Homo sapiens: one gene and its partners. The protein of the gene in region 2 purifies or fractionates together with the protein of the main gene of each other region. This does not show direct contact. Each region holds a gene or a part of one and is shown on either strand. Other genes may lie near its edges.

Region 1 (4,740 bases), on a different chromosome or scaffold from region 2:
TATTTATGTATTTATTTTGAGACATAGTCTCACTCCTTCACCCAGGCTGCAGTACAATGGTGTGATCTCGGCTCACTGCAACCCCTACCTCCCGGGGTTCAAGCAATTCTCCTGCCTCACCCTCCCCAGTAGCTGGGATTACAGGTGTACACCACCACGCTTTGCTAATTTTTTTTTTTTTTTGAGACAGAGTTTCGCTCTTGTTGCCCAGGCTGGAGTGCAATGGCCATCTCAGCTCACTGCAACCTCCACCTCCAGGGTTCAAGTGATTCTTCTGCCTCAGCCACCCGAGTAGCTGGGATTACAGGCATGTGCCACCACGCCTGGCTAATTTTTTGTATTTTTAGTAGAAACGGGGTTTTACCATGTTAGCCAGGCTGGCCTTGAACTCCTAACCTCAGGTGATCCGCCCGCCTCAGCCTCCCAAAGTGTTGGGATTACAGGCATAAGCCACCACACCTGACCTAATTTTTGTATTTTTAGTAGAGACAGGGTTTCGCCATGTTGGTCAGGCTGATCTCAAAACTCCTGATCTCAAGTGATCCTCCTGCCTTGGCCTCCCAAAGTTCTGGGATTGCAGGCGTGAGCAATGAGCCCGGCTAATTATTGTGTTTTTAGTAGACATGGGGTTTTTGCCATGTTGACCAGGCTGGTCTTGAACTCCCGACCTCAGGTGATCCACCTGCCTCAGCCTCCCAAAGTGCTGTGATTACAGGCATGAGCCACTGCACCCAGCCAAGGCCCATTTTGGAGAAGAGGGGAGTGGGGCTCTGGGATGTAGAGCATCTCACCCACATCTGCCTGATGGGGAACACACGTTAGGTTCGAGGTCCCTGGCTCTGTCCCTTGAAGCCTGACAGTCTCACCGCAGGCCCTGCCCATCCGAGTCCCACTGTAGCTGGGCTGCCAGTGTTCCGTTCTCACTGTCCAGTTTGGCTTGTTCCCTGAATGTCGCATGCTCCACTACACCGTGGAACCGCACCCTGCACGACGCCTGTCGCCTGGGGCTCTTCACTTTTTTTCTCTCCTCCTTTCTCTCAAACACCTCCTCTCTCTCTCCCTTCCAGCATACCTTTATTATTTATTTATTTTATCTTAATTAATTTATTTATTTTATCTATCTATTTATTTATTTATTTTGAGACAGTGTTTCACTCTTGTTGCCCAGGCTGGAGTGCAATGGCACGATCTCGGCTCACTGCAACCTCTGCCTCCCGGGTTCAAGCGAGTCTCCTGCCTCAGCCTCGCAGAGTAGCTGGGATTACAGGCATGTGCCACCACGACCAGCTACTCTTCTATTTTTAGTAGGACGGGGTTTCTCCATGTTGGTCAGGCTGGTCTGGAACTCCCCACCTCAGGTGATCCGCCTGTCTCGGCCTCCCAAAATGCTGGGATTACAGGCATGAGCCACCACACCGGGCCCGAATTTATTTTTTTGAGACAAGATCTTGCTCTGTCTCCCAGGCTGGAGTGCAGTGGTGCGATCTCAGCCCCACAGCAACCTCCGTCTCCTGGGTTCAAACAATCCTCCTGCCTCAGCCTCCCGAGTAGCTGGGATTACGGGCGCCCACCACCACACCTGGCTAATTTTTATTTTTTTTATTTTTGAGACGGAGTTTTGCTCTTGTTGCCCAGGCTGGAGTGCAATGGCAGGATCTTAGCTCACTGCAGCCTCTGCCTCCCGGGTTCAAATGATAGGCCCACCTCGGCCTCCCAAAGTGCTGGGATTACAGATGTGAGCCACCACGGCTGTCCTAATTTCTGTATATTTACTAGAGATGGGGTTTCACCATGTTGGCCAGGCTGGTCTCGAACTCCTGACCTCAAGGGATCCACACGTCTCGGCTTCCCAAAGTGCTGGGATTATAGGCATGAGCCACCACGCCCAGCCTCATTGACAGTTTTTGAAATTGACTATATGTGGAAATGATATTTCAGATAGATTAGATATGTGATTAAAATTAATTTCACTTGTTTCTTTTGTTTTTTTAAAAAGGTGGCTACGAGAAAATGTTTTCCTATGGGCTCACGGTATATATCTATGGAGGGTGGCCAGGGTCATGGAAACCATAAGGGTGACAAGTCCCCCCGAGAAGAAATGGCCACTGAGGGGCAGCCTCTGACTGCAGTTCCAAGCCCCTGTTGGATTCCTTTCTCTGGCATGAGGGTTATGAGTGGGGCCTCAGTTTTCCCATCTGTAAAATGGGCATTGTAACACTGGGACCACACAGGGCTGTTGTGAAGACTCAGTGAGCTCATCCCCACACAGCCTTCAGCACAGGGCCTGGCTCAGGGCAGATGCTCAGGAAGCTCATCATTATTATCATTCCTCACCCATCCCCTCCCTTGCTAGCATTCGAGTTTCTGGCTCAGCAGCGGTCTCAGAACTGGGGAAGGAGGAAAGAGAGAAACAGCACAAATGCTGAGTCAGCTGCGAGCCCAGGTCAGGCCCTTCCCCGGTCATTGCCCGTTTCACAGACGCTCAACCCTGAGGGCAGTCCTTTCTACCAGGAGGGTCCCAGCTCCTGAGCCATAGGGGCGGCATTCGAACCCAGGACTGCCTTCCTGTGGGCATTCTTCTTTTCTTTTTAATTTTTTTTTTTTTTTTTTAAAGAGAGATGAGGGTTTGCTATGTTGCCCAGGCTGGTCTTGAACTCCTGGCCTCAAGCAATCCTCCTGCCTTGCCCTCCCAAAGTGTTGGGATTACAGGCGTGAGCTGTGGCACCTGGCCCCTGCAGGCTTTCTTGCCTGCGGTGTCACGGTCCCCACTTTCCCAGATCCTTGGGGCTCTGGTCCCCACGTAAGTAACTGGCCACACCTCTCTTAGGGCCTCCACTCCAGGCCTCCGGGCAAGGCGAGGGTCTCCCTTCTCAGCCTGGCATTTATTCCATGTCATGGGTGACCCACTGGGTCCCACAGTTCCTCCTCCAGACCCTCTGGGTGGCAAACTGGGCTGCTTAGTTCTTTCCAAATGGGTCCTGAACTCAGCTGGCCAGCATGGCGAAACCCTGTCTTTATCAAAAATACAAAAATTAGCTAGGCATGGTGGCACATGCCTGTAATCCCAGCTACTTGGGAAGCTGAGGCAGGAGAATCGCTTGAACCCAGGAGGCGGAGGTTGCAGTGAGCTAAAATCACGCCACTGCTCTCCAGCCTGGGCGACAGAGCAAGACTCTGTCTCCAAAACAAAACAAAACAAAACAAAACAAAACAAAACAAAAAACAAAACCAAATGGGTCCTGAACTCTGAACATCACCACTTCCAACCTTTCCTCTGCCAGTCCGTACACAGGCCCACCAGGCACAACTGCCTCCCCCCACCCCAAAGAGCGAGTGGAAAGGAAAACGCATCCTGTCCCTCACTCTTCAAGGCTGAGTCCCTCGTCAGGGGCTGGGTGGAGAAGGAGGGAACCGTGAGCATCTTTTTCCACTTCTCCCCAAGTCCCCGCATCCGCTAGTGCTGGCCCCGAAGCCCCTCTCCCTAGTCTGCCTGCCCAAATCTCACCCAGCGGGGAGGCAATGCCTTATTATTTCTTAATTGTTTGAAACCCCTTGATCAGCCCGTCTCAGAAAAAGCAGCTTCAGGCCAGTCGCGGTGGCTCACACCTGTAATCCCAGCACTTTGGGAGGACGAGGCGGGTGGATCATCCGAGGTCAGGAGTTTGAGACAAGCCTGACCTATATGGTGAAACCCTGTCTCAACTAAAAATACAAAAATTTAGCCAGGCGTGGTGGCGCACGCCTGTAGTCCCAGCTACTCAGGAGGCTGAGGCAGGAGAATCGCTTGAACCCCGGAGGCGGCTGTTGCAGTCAGCCGAGATGGTGCCACTGCACTCCAGCCTGGGCAACCAGAGTGAAACTCTGTCTCAAAAAAAAAAAAAAAAAAAAAAGAAAAGAAAAGAAAAAAGAAAAAGCAGCCTCATGACTGGCAGGGCTTTGGCCATAAAATCATTCATGTGGCTCAGCCCTCCCTAAGGAAGGTGGGGCCGGGGTTGTAAAACCAGAGCTGGCCCCTCCTCGCCCTCCCCGTCAATAAGAGGCAGAGATCAGAAGGTGCCGGCGCCAGGGACTCCCGAGATCAGAGCGCGGGGAGGAGCGGCCACCGCAGCTCTCCTTGGCTGCCCGAGGCGCCCCAGGTCCAAAGGCCGGCGTGGCTTCTCTGGCCTTGACACTCTCCGTAGCCCAGCACGCAGGGAATGCAAGGAAACGCCTGGAACCGCAGAGCGCCTGCTAACGCCTCCTGTCTGGGCTGAGTCTCCCTCCCGGATCTCGCTCCTTCCGGGTCTTGCTCATCCCCAAGTTCCCCATCCAGGGCGTGATACAGTCAGGCTTCCCTGGTTCAAATCCTGGCTACGCCCTGCTTGGCAGCTGTGTGACCCTGGGCAAGTCACTCAACCTCTCTGGGCCTCACCTCTTACAGGGGATGATAGTAGTTAAAATGGGTTAATCTCCGACGGCTGTAAGGATTAGATGAGGTAATACAGACAGCACTCAACAGGTTGAGAACAACTGCAAGGATGTTACAGGGATTATAACATCCTGGGCTTGTCAGCCTACTGGGTCAGCAGCCCATCCTGCCTACCGCCTGTGCCAAATGTTTTCCTCTTACGATTTTATTTTTTTTAATTTTTTTAATTTTAATTATTTTTTGAGACAGAGTTTCACTCTTGTTGCCCAGGCTGGAGTGTAATGACACGATCTCGACTCACCGCAACCTCCGCCTCCTGGGTTCAAGCGATT
Region 2 (5,216 bases):
ATGATTCGACTTATATAGACTTCAAAAACTGACAAAAGTAGTTTCTACTGTTTAGGAATGCATGCAGAGTAATATTATAAAGAAAGAAAGGAGTAAATGACATAAAAGGATATAGTTCTCTCTGGAGGAAAGAAAGGAGAAAACAGCAAATAGACACAGAAGTTTCTGGGGTGTTCACTTTGTGATTATTCATTAAGCCATCATACCACACATTTGTGCTTCATGTGCTTTTCGGTCATGTATCACAATTAAAAGAAAATGAGCTGATGGGATGGCTCACAACTGTAATCCTAGCACTTTGGGAGGCCACGGCAAAATGACTGCTTGAGCCTAGGAGTTCGAAACCAGCCTGGGCAACAAAGTGAGACTCTGTTTCTACAAGAAAATAAAAAATTAGTTGGGCATGGTGCTGCACGTCTGTAGCCTCAGCTACTTGGGAGGCTGAGACGGGGGGATCGCTTGACCCCAGGAGGGTCCAGGCTGCAGTGAGCACACCACTGCACTCCAGCCTGGACCCTGTTGGAAAGAAAAGGGAAAGAGAAGGGAGAGAAGAAAGAAAATGAGAATAAATGATTCAAGAATAAGTATATATCAAGCCAAACTATTGTTTAAGTATAAAAGTGAAAAAAAACTACTTTTCAACATGTAAGAACTCAGGGAAAATGTGTTCCTTAACACCTGTCTGAAGAAGCTGTGAGAGAACAAACTTCAACTAATCATGAGATGGAGAAACCATGGCAAAAGGATTGGTGGAGAGCCCTGAACAGATCCAACCTTATGACTAGGTCTTACATTTGAGGCAAAGAGAACATCAAAGTAATATAATTGGCAAATGTTAAAAGGAGGAAAAAATGGACAAATGAAGTGCATTGACTTCTTCATCTTTTACTGACAGGGCTCAGAAGATATTTAAAGCAGATAGCTCAATTTGCAAATCTATGTCACTACCTGTTTAACATTAAATCCTAATGTAGATTTGCAAATGTTAATAGACGAATATGGATGTTTTACGACAGAAAATAAAACCAAGAAAAATAATATAATCAACTAGAAGCAGGTGGGAAGAGAGGGGTGAGGAAATATACTTACTAATTTCATCATTACTCATGGTAGGGAGCCAACAGGTACTGTCTGAAGAAATATGGTATAAAGTTACACTTATAAACACAATCACTAAAATAAAAAGATAAATCTTCCAAATTATCAGAATATATATATGTGTGTGTGTATATATATATGTGTATATATATATTATATATATAGTGTATATATATATTATATATATAGTGTATATATATTATATATAGTGTATATATATTATATATATGTGTATATATATATTATATATGTGTGTATATATATTATATGTGTATATATATATTATATATGTGTGTATATATATATTATATATGTGTGTATATATATTATATATGTGTGTATATATATATTATATATGTGTGTGTGTATATATATATATATATGTATGTCCTCCCCTCAAAAGCAAGCACAGTCCACATAGTGAAAGACTTTTTTAAGAAGAAAATATTTTTAAAAGGGCAAGCATGGTAGCTCACATCTGTAATCCCAGGACTTTGGGATGCTGAGGTGTGAGAACTGCTTGAGGCTAGAAGTTTGACCAGCCTGAGCAACGTAGCAAGACCTTGTACCTACAAAAAATTTAAAAATTAGCCAACTGTGGTGGTGCATGCTTGTACTTCTAGCTACTTGGGAGGCTGAGGTGAGAGGATTACTTGAACCCAGGAGTTTGAGACTACAGTGACCTATCATCGTGTCACTGCACTATAGCCTGGGCAACAGAGTAAGTCCTTATCTCAAAAAAAAAAAAAAAAAAAAAAAAGACGAAGAAAATATTAAAAATTGAACTTAAACTAAATAACTAAATATATCAGTTATTCCAATAAATATAAAGGAGCTAACTTACCTATTAAAATAGAAAGGATAATTACCAACAGGAAAGTAGTTAAATAAATTACAGTATATCTTTTAAAAAGAATGAGGCAGTTCTGGCCAGGTGCGGTGGCTCACGCCTGTAATCCCAGCACTTGGGGAGGCCAAAGCAGGCAGATCACCTAAGCTCAGGAGTTCAAGACCAGCCTGGCCAACATGGTGAAACCCCATCTCTACTAAAAAATACAAAAATTAGCCGGGCATGGTGGCAGGCACCTGTAATCCCAACTACTCAGGAGGCTGAGGCGGGAGAATGGCTTGAGCTGGGGAGGCGGAGGTTGCAGTGGGCCGAGATTGTACCACTGCACTCCAGCTTGGGGGACAGAGCAAGACTCCGTCTCAAAAAAAAAAAAAGAATGAGGCAGTTCTATATTCACTGACATGAAATAAACTCAGACATTAATTGAAAAAAGATGCAGAACTACATGTATGACACCATTTTTATAAAAATCTTTAAAATAGATACATGCATTTTATGTATGATTAGGTCTATGTATCTGAAAGAATATCAGAGTATCTGAAAGAATACAAAAGACACTGGTAGCAGCAGTTTGGAATAGGAACCAGATGACTGGAAGATGATGGGACACCAAAGAGACTTAGTTTTCACTGCAAACCCTTTCTGATTTAGTATCATGTACAAGTATCACCTTTATAAGAAATAAGCGATCTTGAGAAGGTTAGAAGGTTTAAGTGGGACGATATGTTGAAAGCCCTTTAGCACAATTCCTGGTGGGTGGTAATGCTAATTTAATGTTAAGCAGGAAGTGACGTAGATTTGCAAATGTTAGAACACTACCCAGCAAACACTCAGTGCCCAAGAAATGTTGATTTTCTTCCTCCCTCCCATTTTTATAATTTAATCCATACTCAACATTTAGAAATTGAAACAAGCTTACCAAATACTTGTTTCACATAACAGAGGTGATCCTAAAGGATGCTCTTAAATAAAAATATAGCCAAATCAATCACTTTCACATTGATTCCTATTAAGATTTCAGAGGAAATCTTACATATAATCTTTAATTTATGAATACAGTCCCTACTTCTTTAGCTATAAGAATCTTTACTCCCTAAACCTCTCTGGAAGATTAATAAGTAATGTGTAAGCAAACTATTACATATATTACTACAGAAATACAAACTTTGAAAACAATACTAATTGATGTGTTTAAAGGGTTTCCTAGGCAGAGAGAAAAAAAGAGGAATCAAAGAGTAAAGGGAAAGTTCTGCTGAGAGAGGAAGGGGGTGTTAGACACCCCCACTGACCACGGGAAAAAAAAAAAAACCCAAAGGGCTACTGATATGCACATTAGCAGCTGCAAATAATCTAAGAGTACACCTGAATTCTTCAAGCCCACAAGCCCTCCTCACAATAAAATATAAAATCAGAGGATAAACTGCAGGAAGATCTCAACAGGCCGGTTAGGTAAGGTGACTGGGTAGAAAAATAAGAGAGTATTACCTTAAAGAAGTATTACCATCTGCCAGTAACCCATGCAGAAGAAAAGCAAACCTAATTTGTGCAGGCTGAAGGGCCAGAGGCCATCAATTACCATCTAGGAAAGGAATCTTAAAATCACAGTAGACTATTTTTTAAAGCTGTCAGCCCAAGGTGCTGGCATAGCCAGGAAGGCTAAGATAAATGATGGACTTCATCAGCAAAGGTATCAGGGCCCAAATTGAATTTGTTAACATATTCTTGAACTGAACCATGATGTATCTAAAACTGGAACACTTTGTATAATAAATCAGCTTATTGCAGCTTAAAAAAGACAGGCAAGAATTTAGAAAAGAGAAACCGAGATGATCACAGAGACTAAATGGAGATAGACCAGAAGAGCCCAATGATTAAGGTGCTCAATTTCCTGACATTTATAATTCACCTTTCACTGTCTGTACCATACCTACTCCTTCCAAACCCAAACTCAGCTCTAAGAAAGACTGATCTCCACTCCACCTTCCAAACTTATTAAACCCATTATTAAATAAGGCTCTTTTCCCTACTTGGAATGCTTTTCTATTTTCTACATCCCTTTTCAAAATTGTATCCATCCTGCAACATTCTCTTCAAATTCTACACCCCTCATGAAACTTTCCATACCCCTACCCCCAGCATCTACTAACTCATGTCTTCTCTAGTTCCCTAACATACATAAATTAGGGCTTATATTACTTTTTAAAAATAAACTAGATTTAGATCATAATATAAGACACAATCAGGGCTGGGCACTGTAATCCCTGCACTTTGAGAGGCCGAGGCAGGCAGATCACTTGAGTCCAGCAGTTCGAGACTGGCCTGGCCAACACAGCAAAACCCCATCTCTACTAAAAATAAAAATTAGCTGGGCTTGGTGGCACACATCTGTAATCCCAGCTACTCAGGACGCTGAGGCACAAGAATTGCTTGAGTCTGGGAGGCAGAGGTTGCGGTGAGCCGAGATCGTGCCATTGCACTCCAGCCAGGGCAACAAGAGTGAAACCCCGTGTCAAAAACAAAACAAAACCAAACAAAACAAAACACCCTGGCATACCCCTCCCTCCCTTCCTAGCAAGCCACTCTATTGGATCTGGCATTTTTCACACTCATTTTTATATTTTTATTTTCTATGTATGTATCCCTAAATAATGTATGATTTTGCATGTTTTTTAAACTTTATATAAATAACATCACACTGTAAATATGACTTATTTTGACTCTAAATCATGTTACTTTAAATTTTACTTAATTCCATGGCTAACTGGCTGATCTCTCCAACACAAGTTAAAAAAAAAAAATACAAAACATTTGCTCTAACACAAGTGAAAAAGCATTTAATTGACATTTTCAAACACAAAGAAAAGTACAGAAAATGATATAATAAACATCCACAAACCCATCACTCTGATTTACAAATGTTAACATTTGTCACATTTCATTTAAGAAAAAAAGTGTTAGGCCGGTCATAGTGGCTCACGCCTGTAATCCCAGCACTTTGGGAGGCCAAGGTGGGTGGGTCATGAGGTCAGGAGATCAAGACTATCCTGGCCAAAATGGTGAAACCCCATCTCTACTGAAAATACAAGAAAATTAGCTGGGTGTGGTGGCACGCATCTGTAGTCCCAGCTACTCGGGAGGCCAAGGCAGGAGAATCGCTTGAACCCGGGAGGCGGAAGTTGCAGTGAGCGGAGATCGGGCCACTGCACTCCAGCCTGGCAACAGAGTAAGACTCCATGTCAAAAAAACAAAACAAAACAAAACAAAAACA
Region 3 (4,740 bases), on a different chromosome or scaffold from region 2:
ACAGCATGAGAGAGGCCTCCTCATCAGGACACATTCCCCATCCCAGAGGGGGATCGGCACTCACGATTGTGATGTTGGCTACATCCTTGACAAAGCCGATGGCCTTTCCAGGTTGGAACTTGCAATAACCATCCTGTTGAGGATGCAAAGGGCATGAAATACAGGTTATGGACCCGAAGTCTCAGCCTCCCCACGCAGTTCAATAACATTTACTAAACAAAACAAGATGTGCCAGGGCCTGGGGGATGGGATAATTTCAGAGAGAATTAAAGCATCCTTGTCCTCAAGGAGCTTAGGGTCTGGTAGCAGATGGTCCTGTGCTGGCTTTGGCAGAGGTGGGCACACATGGTGTGTGGTGGGAGCCTGAGGAGGGGCCTCACCCGGCCTGAGGAAACTCACTGAGAAGTGGAGGCCGAGTCAGAGCCTGTGAGGCAGGGGAGTGGGGACAGTCTCAGCCCAAAAAACAATGCTGGCAAGAGGCAGGTGCAGGGGTAAGGTCACAAGGAGGGAAGCGCAGCCCTTTCAAGGCAGGAGAGAAGGCAGCAGGACAAGGGACAGAACTAGAGGGAGGGTAGGACCTGGCATTTAGGAACCAGCATGTGGCTGGGCCTGGGCGTGAGGTTAAGAAGGGAGAGTTGGCCGGGCACGGTGGCTCACGCCTGTAATCACAGCACTTTGGGAGGCCGAGGCGGTAGATCACGAGGCCAGGAGTTCAATACCAGTCTGGCCAAGATGGTGAAACCCTGTCTCTACTAAAAATATAAAAAGTTAGCTGGGCGTGGTGGCGGGTGCCTGTACTCCCAGCTACTCAGGAGGCTGAGGCAGATAACTGCTTGAACTCGGGAGGCGGAGGTTGCAGTGAGCCGAGATTGCGCCATTGCACTCCAGCCTGGGCAACAGAGCAAGACTCCGTCTCAAAAAAAAAAAAAAAAAAAAAAAAAGAAGGGAGAGTAAAAGAGACAGGGAGACTGAGTTGGAGTCTGGGCTTTCTCCCGAAGGCCGCATGGAGCCTCGGCGGCATTCTGATCGAGGCAGGCGTGGGGTCTGAGCTGGGTTTGAGAGGCCTGGGGGAGGCCACCCTCAGGGGTCTGGATGGAGGCCCCGGTCTGAGTGGTCAGCGACACAGATGGGCCAAGGGAGTCATGTGAGGTCTGTGGTGGTCAGCAGGCTGGCGGCAGGGTGGGGTGGAGAGGGGGACCGGCCCAACAGGACTGTGGACACCTGGGAAATTCTGAGGGAGGCCAGTGCTGCTCATCACCACGAGGGGAAATAAAGGAGGAGCAACAGGTCTTGGGGAAAGACAAGGCACTTGGCTGTGGCCAGGCTGGGCGGAGGTGATGGTGGGAGGCCCAGCAGCCTTGATAGGGTAGGGGTGGGGGTGGGCCCCCAAAGGGTCCTTGGCACAAGAGGCCAACTGCATGGACAGAGGCGAGAGGATGGCGCTCGTGGCAGGAGGGAGAGGAGCCAGGAAGATGGGGCAGGTGGGGGGAAGGAGGGGTCCTGAGAAGTCTGGCTCGGGAAGGAAAGAGATGGTGCCGCAGAGCGGGTATGGGGTGAGAATGATAAAGAGGCCCCTGGACTGGTGAGAGCAGTGGGCTCAGGTGGGTGGAGGAGGGGAAGGAAGAATTTGGAGAGAACAGACAATTGTGAGAATTCCGGCGGGAGGGAGGTGGGGGGAGAAGGGATGTCTTCCAAGGCTGGGGAGGGAGTGAAGCTAGGCATGCTGTACGCCAAGAAGACAGAGTGGAGGCTGTTGGAGTTACCTTGCCCTGGTAGGGGTAGGTGTCTTCACCCATGATCCCCTTGTTGTACAGGATATACTCGAAAGCCTGGCTGGGGAGACCCCTGCAAGAAGTACACACAGGTGAGCCCACCTGGGGCTGTCCTGATAGAGGCGGGGCCCTCGGGGACTGGCGTGGCGAGATATCTGGCCTGGCAGGCTGGGGACTTGGTTGGGCATGTCCCAGTGGCAGAGGGGGTCTCTGAGAGGCCCAGCCTTGGGATAAGACTCAGCAAACTCAGATGAGGCCACCGGAGTCCAAGGACCAGCCCAAACATGCCTCAGTGGGATAGAGACCCCTTAAGGCCAGCCGCTCTGTCAGGAGTGCACAGCCCCACACCATGGTCAACAGCATCAGCCCAGAGCACTGTCATCGCCACAGCCGAGCCCCTGGGCAGGTGCTTCCCAGGCATGACTCCCTGACCCCTCGTGTCGACCCTGTGTGGTGGATGCTGTCACTGGCTGAGGCAAAGAGGCTGAATAACCTGGCCAGGGCCACACAGCTAAAGCTGGGAAGTGGTTCCAAAAGTGGGTCTTTTCTACATCATGTGGCCTCCCAGAATAAACAAAAACTCAGCAGCTGCCCAGCAATCCCCGTCCCTTCTCTGTTTCTCTCCATAGCATTCCGCACCGCCTGACCTAGTCTAGCCTTGACTGTGGTCTCTCTGAGCCTGCCAGAATGCCCGCTCTTCCAGTTCTGCTGAGCGCTGTATCCCCAGGGCCTACACACAGCGGGTGCTCTGTGATATTTGTTGTATGAATGAGAAAAGGAAGTACTGTCCTGAACCAAAGCAAATAGACTCCTTTGAAAAACAGGCTGGATGTGGTGGCTCACACCTGTAATCCCAGCACTTTGGGAGGCCAAGGTGGGTGGATCACCTGAGGTCAGGGGTTCGAGACTAGCCTGGCCAACATGGTGAAACCCCCATCTCTACTAAAAATACAAAAATTAGCCAGGTGTGGTGGCGCACGCCTGTAATCCCAGCTCCCTGGGAGGCTGAGGCAGGAGAATGGGGTGAACCCGGGAGGCGGAGCTTGCAGTGAGCTGAGATCGCGCCACTGCACTCCAGCCTGGGCAACAGAGCGAGACTCCATCTCAAAAAAAGAAAAAATAAATAAATAAATAAATAAATAAATAAATAAAAAATAAAAACGGTGGGACCCCAGAGTGCCCAAATGTCAGACTCTTGTTATGGGTTGGGTTTCTAAGCTGTGGAGTGGAAACAGACCAAAAGTAAGGGGACACTGAGCATGATGGTGGATCTGAGAGCAGGCTACGACGTCACCCCTGGGTCCCCAGGACTTGGCTGCAGCACGGCTCCCTGCAGGAGGAAGAGCCAGCTCAGAGGGGCTGGGGTCTGGGAGAGGGATGTGCCCCAGGGAGGTGGAGGGGAGTCGAGGCACGGCACCCCAAGAGCCTGGCTTTATGCACACCATGTGCCAGGTGAGCAAAGACCACAGAAATGTCTCAGAGCACTGCATGAAGGGAGGGCTAGAGTCACTGTAGAAATGTCAGCAAATTCCTGGCAACCTGCTTTACAGTGGGCCAGGAAAGCAGGTCCAGGCAAGGTACAGCCCTTACACACAGCCACCTCACCCTCACAGGGCGCAATGAGCTTGGGAGGCTGGGACTTTAGTGAGTTCATCTAAAGGCCAACCCTGTATCTGTGTGTGGATCTCGGGTTTGGAGGATGATGTGTAATGGTGTGTTGCTCACTCTATTAAATTCTTTTGGCCACACTCCCAGAGGCCTTGGTGGCGGGTGAGGCCAACCGCACTGTGGAGAGCCAGGTGATACAGTGGAGAGAGGACAGAGGCCTGGACTCAGATTCCAGCTCTGCCCTGTCCTGGCTATGAGACCTGGCCATGTGAGGTGACCACCCCTGTACAACAGAGACCATTTTGCCATCGCCCAGGGCAGTGGTGGGTTATATCTGTGGCAGACCCAGCACACACTGGATCCTGTCGAAGCGGTCAGTGGGAAATGAGGAAGTTTTGGGCCCCTTCTGGTCAGAGACGTACCCTTGGCAGCCGTGATTATTGAAGTCCTGGGCGCAGTCCACCAGCTGCTGTTCCGCCTGGAAGAAGGACACAACCCAGTGACCTGCCAGCTGAGAAGCCGTCAAGGCTTTGGCGTGAGGCGCTAAGCCTCCCTGGCTGAGCCACATCTGAGGCCCCGTCAGTGCTGTGTCAAGGTGACCAAATTATAAACTCCCCAAGGGCAGGGACAGTTGCTGTATGTCCTGCAGTGCCAGCCCAGCAGCTGGCACATGTCGGGAGGGGCTCAGTAAGCAGGGGCAGCCAGGGAAGGTGAGAGGGGGCAAGGGCTGTTGGGTCCAAACCCCTGCCCCGTAGGTGTGCCCATACGATGCAGAGTGTGGGGTCCCACAGCGGTGTATAGGATGGGGGAAACAGGCCCAGCCAGAGACCCTACCCCCACCTGTCCACAACCCAGGGTCCTCATGGCATCACCAGGCCGGCTGTGCACTGTCCCTCCTTTCTCCACAGAGGCAGGGGCTAGGATAGTTCCTTCAGGGGCATCATCCGTCTCTTGTGGGCGAGGGGATGGATGCATAGGTCCCGGCTCTTCCCTCATGAAGACAACTGAGGCTGCTGGGAAGGGTGTAGCTCCTAGTTGGCTACCCACCAGGCAGGCTCCGCCTTTCTGAACCCCTCCGCCGGGAAGGCTCCAGGCTGTCAAGCTAAGGACCACCCAGATCCATCTAGGAATGAGCCCTTGGGCCGGTTCCTTAATAAACTCAGATCCTTCCCGGGAAAAGCATCAATTGAGATTCTCATGCCAGATGTCCACAAGGCTGGGGCATCTGGGTCCACCTGAAACAGCACCCTTAGCCAATGCTCCAGGGAAACCAAAGGCCCAGGCCTGGCCCACATCAGGATGGGGTGTCCTCCGCAGGGGGTCGCCTGTGGCTGATTTCTTACCAAGGACAGCATCTTTC
Region 4 (4,397 bases), on a different chromosome or scaffold from region 2:
CTTGCTTTTCCTTCTTGAACCAGCTCTGCTTCTGCCATCCGCCGGGTCACCTGCAGCAACAGGTGTGGTGAGCTTGGAGGAGTCAGTGTCATGGACTTATGGGGGGAGGGTTAGGGAACGGGGCAGGTGGGTATTCTTGTCCTAAGATGAGAGACCGTTGTGGCCTCTTCCTATACCATAGTTTGTATGGAATCCTTGGCTGGGCATTTTTTAAATAATTTGCAATAAAAACATATAAACATTAAAAGAAAACAGTTTGCCCAAACATTGTTTATATCCAAGGGGGATTTGTTTATAGAAATTTATCTCCCATACTGTGGCTTTTAAGAGTCCCTGCATTTGGGAAAGTTGTTGGAAAGTGGGCTTCTTAGTTTCTGTATTGAGATCTGGCTTGGATTTGGAGCTGAGGGAAATGGAGAGGGGTTAGGAGGAGGCTCAGCCCCCTCCGCCTGCACCCTTCTTGGCCTGGGCGGTGGTCCCAGCTACCTTTTGTCAACTCACCTCTGTCAGAAGTTCCAAGATATGTCCTTTCCTCTTCGTGAACACATCCACCAGGGTCTGGATAAAGCATGAGCCTTTCTGATCATGTCGGTAGGCGATGTATCCTGGGAATTCCAGAGAGGTGGGTTCGGGGGAGCTTCAGAGGGTAGGTAGAGGGGATCCTGGAAGGGCGTGGGTCCTGGAGGAGAGGTTCAGGAGTTGGGAGTGGCAGGAGAGGGGGAAGAGCAGAGGGATCCCTGGGCCAGCTGGGAGCTCATACCCTCTACCGTGGAATAAACGTGCAAGGCATCTGTGTATGTTGGGATGGTTTGTGGGCTGTCTTTGATGACCATCACAATCTCATCTCCACCTACTGTTTCACCGGGGTCCCTTTGTTCTGAAACAACAAGAAGAGGAGGAGGCAAAGTCAGAGAGAAAGGTAAGGAAAGGGGCTGGGCAGGGTGGCTCACACCTGTATTCCCAGTGTTTTGGGGGGCTGAAGCAGGAGGATCACTTGAACCTGGGAGCTTGAGGCTGCAGTGAGCCATGATTGCACCACTACACTCTAGCCTGGGAGACAGAGCGAGATGTCGCCTCTTAAAAAGAAAGGTAAGGGCTGGGCACGGTGGCTCACACCTGTAATCCCAGCACTTTGGGAGGCTGAGGAAGGCAGATCACCTGAGGTCAGGAGTTTGAGACCAGCCTGACCAACATGGTCAAATCCCATCTCTACTAAAAATACAAAAATTAGCCAGGCATGGTGGCTTGCACCTGTAATCCCAGCTACTTGGGAGGCTGAGGCAGAAGAATTGCTTGAACCTGGGAGGTGGGGGTTGCAGTGAGCCAAGATTGTGCCATCGCACTCCAGCCTGGGTGACAGAGCAAGACTCCGTCTAAAAAAAAAAAAAAAAAAAGGATGCTTTTGTGGTATGCCATGTGCAGTGGGGCTTTTTAATTTAATTTAACTTTTTAGAGACAGGGGCTTGCTTTGTTGCCCAGGCTGGAGTGCAATGGTGTAATCATAGCTCACTGCAGCCTCTTAACTCCTGGGCTCAAGTGATCCTCCTACTTCAGCCTCCTGAGTAGCTAGGACCACAGGCCCATGCCACCATGCCCTTGGCTAATCTTTAATATTTTTCATAGAGCTGGGTTCTTGTTACATTGCTCGACGCTAGTCTTGAACTCCTGGCCTCAAAAAATCTTCCCGCCTGGGCCTCCCAAAGTACTGGAATTACAGGCATGAGCCATGGTGCCTGGCTTCAGCTGGGGCTTTGGATCTGGGACTGGCTTGGATAAAAACACAGACTTGGTTGGGCATGGTGGGAGGCTGAGGCAGGAGGATTGCTTGAGCTCAGGAGTTTGAGACCAGCCTGGGCAACATAATCAGACCCTGTCTACAAAAATTAGCCTGACATAGTGGCGGGAGCCTGTAGTCTCAGCTACTCAGGAGGCTGAGGCAGGAGGACGGCTGGAGCCTGGGAGATGGAGATTGCAGTGAGTTGAGATTCCGCCACTGCATTCCAGCCTGGGTGCTGTCTCAAAAAACAAAACAGAAACAACAAACCACAGACTCTGTGCTCTTGGATCTGTCCCCACCTCCTCGACAGGCCTGTATGATGTACACCTTGGGCTTAGCTCGCAGGGCCTGGCAGTTCTTGTTGTTCAGGGCCTCGAAGAGATTCTCCAGCTTGACCATCTCCCCATCTTCTCCCTTGAGGAAGCCTTCCCTCCCGTGAGCCATGAGTACCACGAAGGCACAACTGACGGGATCTTCCCGGGAATCGATGGCCTGCTGGAATTTTTCCAGCTCTTCCTGGAATTGCTGGAGTGAGAGGAAGAACCAGACTCAGCTGGGTCCCCATAGCCTACACTTCCAACCTAGTACCTTTCCCCCAAACAGGCCTGGAGTAGGCACCCCAATACCTCGGCAGTGGGGTCTCTTTTCATGGTGCTTTCGAATCTCAGCTGCCGAAACATGTGTTCCAGAGCATCCAGGTCTTCTTCGGAACCTTCCCGGGCTTTGGTGACACACAGTATTAGGGCCAGGCGGGCACCTGACATATCATATTTCTCCTGGGGCCAAGAGAAGACAGAAATCAGCATGGAGAGGTTCAAGGAGAAGCAGATGTAGTCAAAAGAGGCATGCAGGCTGGGTGTGGTGGCTCATGCCTGTGATCCCAGCACTTTGGGAGGCCGAGGTGGGAGGATTGCTTGAGCCCAAGAGTTCGAGACCAGCCTGGGCAACATAGTGAGACTCTGTCTCTACAAAAAATGAAAAATATAGCTGGGTGTGCTGCTGTGCATCTGTGGTCCCAGCTACTTTGGAGGCTGAAGTGGGAGGATAGCTTGAGCCTGGGAAGTTGAGGCTGCAGTGAACTATGATCTTGTCACTGCACTCCAGCCTGGGCAATAAGTGAGACCCTGTCTCAAAAATGAACAAACAAAACAAGAGAGGCTTGGGCTTAGGGTTGCCAGGTATAATAGAAGATGCTCAGGTACACTTAAATTTCAAATAAAAACCAAATACCTTTTTAGTATAAGTATATCCCAAATATTGCATGGGATATACTTATACTACATAATTATTTGTTGTTGATGTGAAATTCAAATTGAATTGGGTGTCCTTTATTTTTAGTTCCCAAATACAGCAACCCAACCTGGGGTCCAGCTCTTTTCTAGCTTGGTATGAACTTGGGGGAAGTCACTGCTCCCATCTGAGCCTCAGTTTCCAAATATAGACAATGAGTGTGTGTGTGATTTTGAAGATCCCTTCCAGTTGTCGTATTTTGTGGATTTGCAGGTCTCCTCATCCTCCCCAAGAGTGTTCTGAGCATTCCTCTATTACCTCCTCACTTGCAGAGGTCTCAGAGTTTCTGAAGCTAATACTGAGATCCCGTCTGAGGAAGAAGAATATTGGGGGTCAACAGTTCTTTCCAGAACAGAAGCAGCGTACTGAGCACCCCAGTGGTAAGAACTTCATCTTTTAAAAAATCAACATGAAATTGTTTATTGCAGGACTTCTCAGAACCTTTAATGTGTTGAGAAGAACTTGATCTTTGGAGACAGAGGTAGCTGTGTTTGACTGCCCCCACCACCCAACCCAACTTCGGTTCCATCTCTGAGTCTTTTTTTGCTGTTTGATTGACTACAAAGTACCTCCTAGCTCTGAGTTCAGATCATGATTTTTTCAGTCCCTCCACTCTTTCCAAAACATTAAAATCCTCACCTTCCTTCTCCCCAGATGATCACCCTCCCCTCAACCTGCACCCAGCCTACCTCTTCCAAAGACCGCGGATTGCTCATTTCTCCTTTGGTTGTGAGTCCCGGCTCTCAGCACCCTTGTCTGATCCTTGGAGTCAAGAGAAGATAGGTTAAAGTTCTCTAAAGGGAGGCCGAGGGGCTCAGGGGACAAACTGGCTTATGTATCTGGATTTTTGAGACCAAATAGCACTCAAGTGGTGGGGATTTGGTCTGTGGACAGATCTGGGCAATAGATGATAATCCATGAAGTAGTAATATATCACCCCTAGAATGACAATTTCACGATGTCTTCCATTTCTGGATGTCTTCTTCAGAACTGCTGAGCCTACCCCACAATGTCCCCCACTCCGCCCCCAAAAACTTCCTGTGTCTCCCGTGGGTCATTCACCAGCTTCTGGTGGACTGAACTTCCCCTGAAAGCCCTGGAATGAGGAGCAGGGCAAGTGACCCATGTGTTTGCCTCTTCTACCTAGGAGATGACGGGCTGGGGAAGCCATCTCAAAGAGATGCCTTGGAGGAGTGTTTAAAAGGAGAATGTCATCGAAGTGGGGAATGCAACTTTGATATTATCTCACTGGGTCTCCAATACGAAGGGGTCAATCCACCTCCCTTGCTCTTCCTTGAGTCTGAATGTCTGTCCACATTCTCCATTCTCA

What was found. The genes of interacting proteins can lie anywhere in the genome.
Region 1: the proteins of TBC1D22B (region 2) and SULT2B1 purify together in Homo sapiens (affinity purification with mass spectrometry; 2 studies listed by BioGRID and IntAct, with this or other methods). This does not show direct contact.
Region 3: the proteins of TBC1D22B (region 2) and CTSH purify together in Homo sapiens (affinity purification with mass spectrometry; 2 studies listed by BioGRID and IntAct, with this or other methods). This does not show direct contact.
Region 4: the proteins of TBC1D22B (region 2) and CASP14 purify together in Homo sapiens (affinity purification with mass spectrometry; 2 studies listed by BioGRID and IntAct, with this or other methods). This does not show direct contact.

Annotation. Positions count from the first base shown.
Region 1 is NC_000019.10:48,557,830-48,562,569, reverse strand, and holds part of SULT2B1 (sulfotransferase 2B1), read right to left. Parts: intron 1-4,740. UniProt on the Homo sapiens protein: Sulfotransferase that utilizes 3'-phospho-5'-adenylyl sulfate (PAPS) as sulfonate donor to catalyze the sulfate conjugation. Responsible for the sulfation of cholesterol.
Region 2 is NC_000006.12:37,263,573-37,268,788, reverse strand, and holds part of TBC1D22B (TBC1 domain family member 22B), read right to left. Parts: intron 1-5,216. UniProt on the Homo sapiens protein: May act as a GTPase-activating protein for Rab family protein(s).
Region 3 is NC_000015.10:78,927,649-78,932,388, forward strand, and holds part of CTSH (pro-cathepsin H isoform a preproprotein), read right to left. Parts: coding exon 4,724-4,740; intron 4,394-4,723; exon of another isoform or gene 3,949-4,393; coding exon of another isoform or gene 3,859-3,948; coding exon 3,803-3,858; intron 1,846-3,802; coding exon 1,764-1,845; intron 134-1,763; coding exon 65-133; intron 1-64. UniProt on the Homo sapiens protein: Important for the overall degradation of proteins in lysosomes.
Region 4 is NC_000019.10:15,051,638-15,056,034, reverse strand, and holds part of CASP14 (caspase-14 precursor), read right to left. Parts: intron 3,830-4,397; 5' UTR 3,784-3,829; coding exon 3,757-3,783; intron 2,554-3,756; coding exon 2,404-2,553; intron 2,303-2,403; coding exon 2,077-2,302; intron 878-2,076; coding exon 761-877; intron 680-760; coding exon of another isoform or gene 606-679; coding exon 502-605; intron 51-501; coding exon 1-50. UniProt on the Homo sapiens protein: Non-apoptotic caspase involved in epidermal differentiation. Is the predominant caspase in epidermal stratum corneum. Seems to play a role in keratinocyte differentiation and is required for cornification.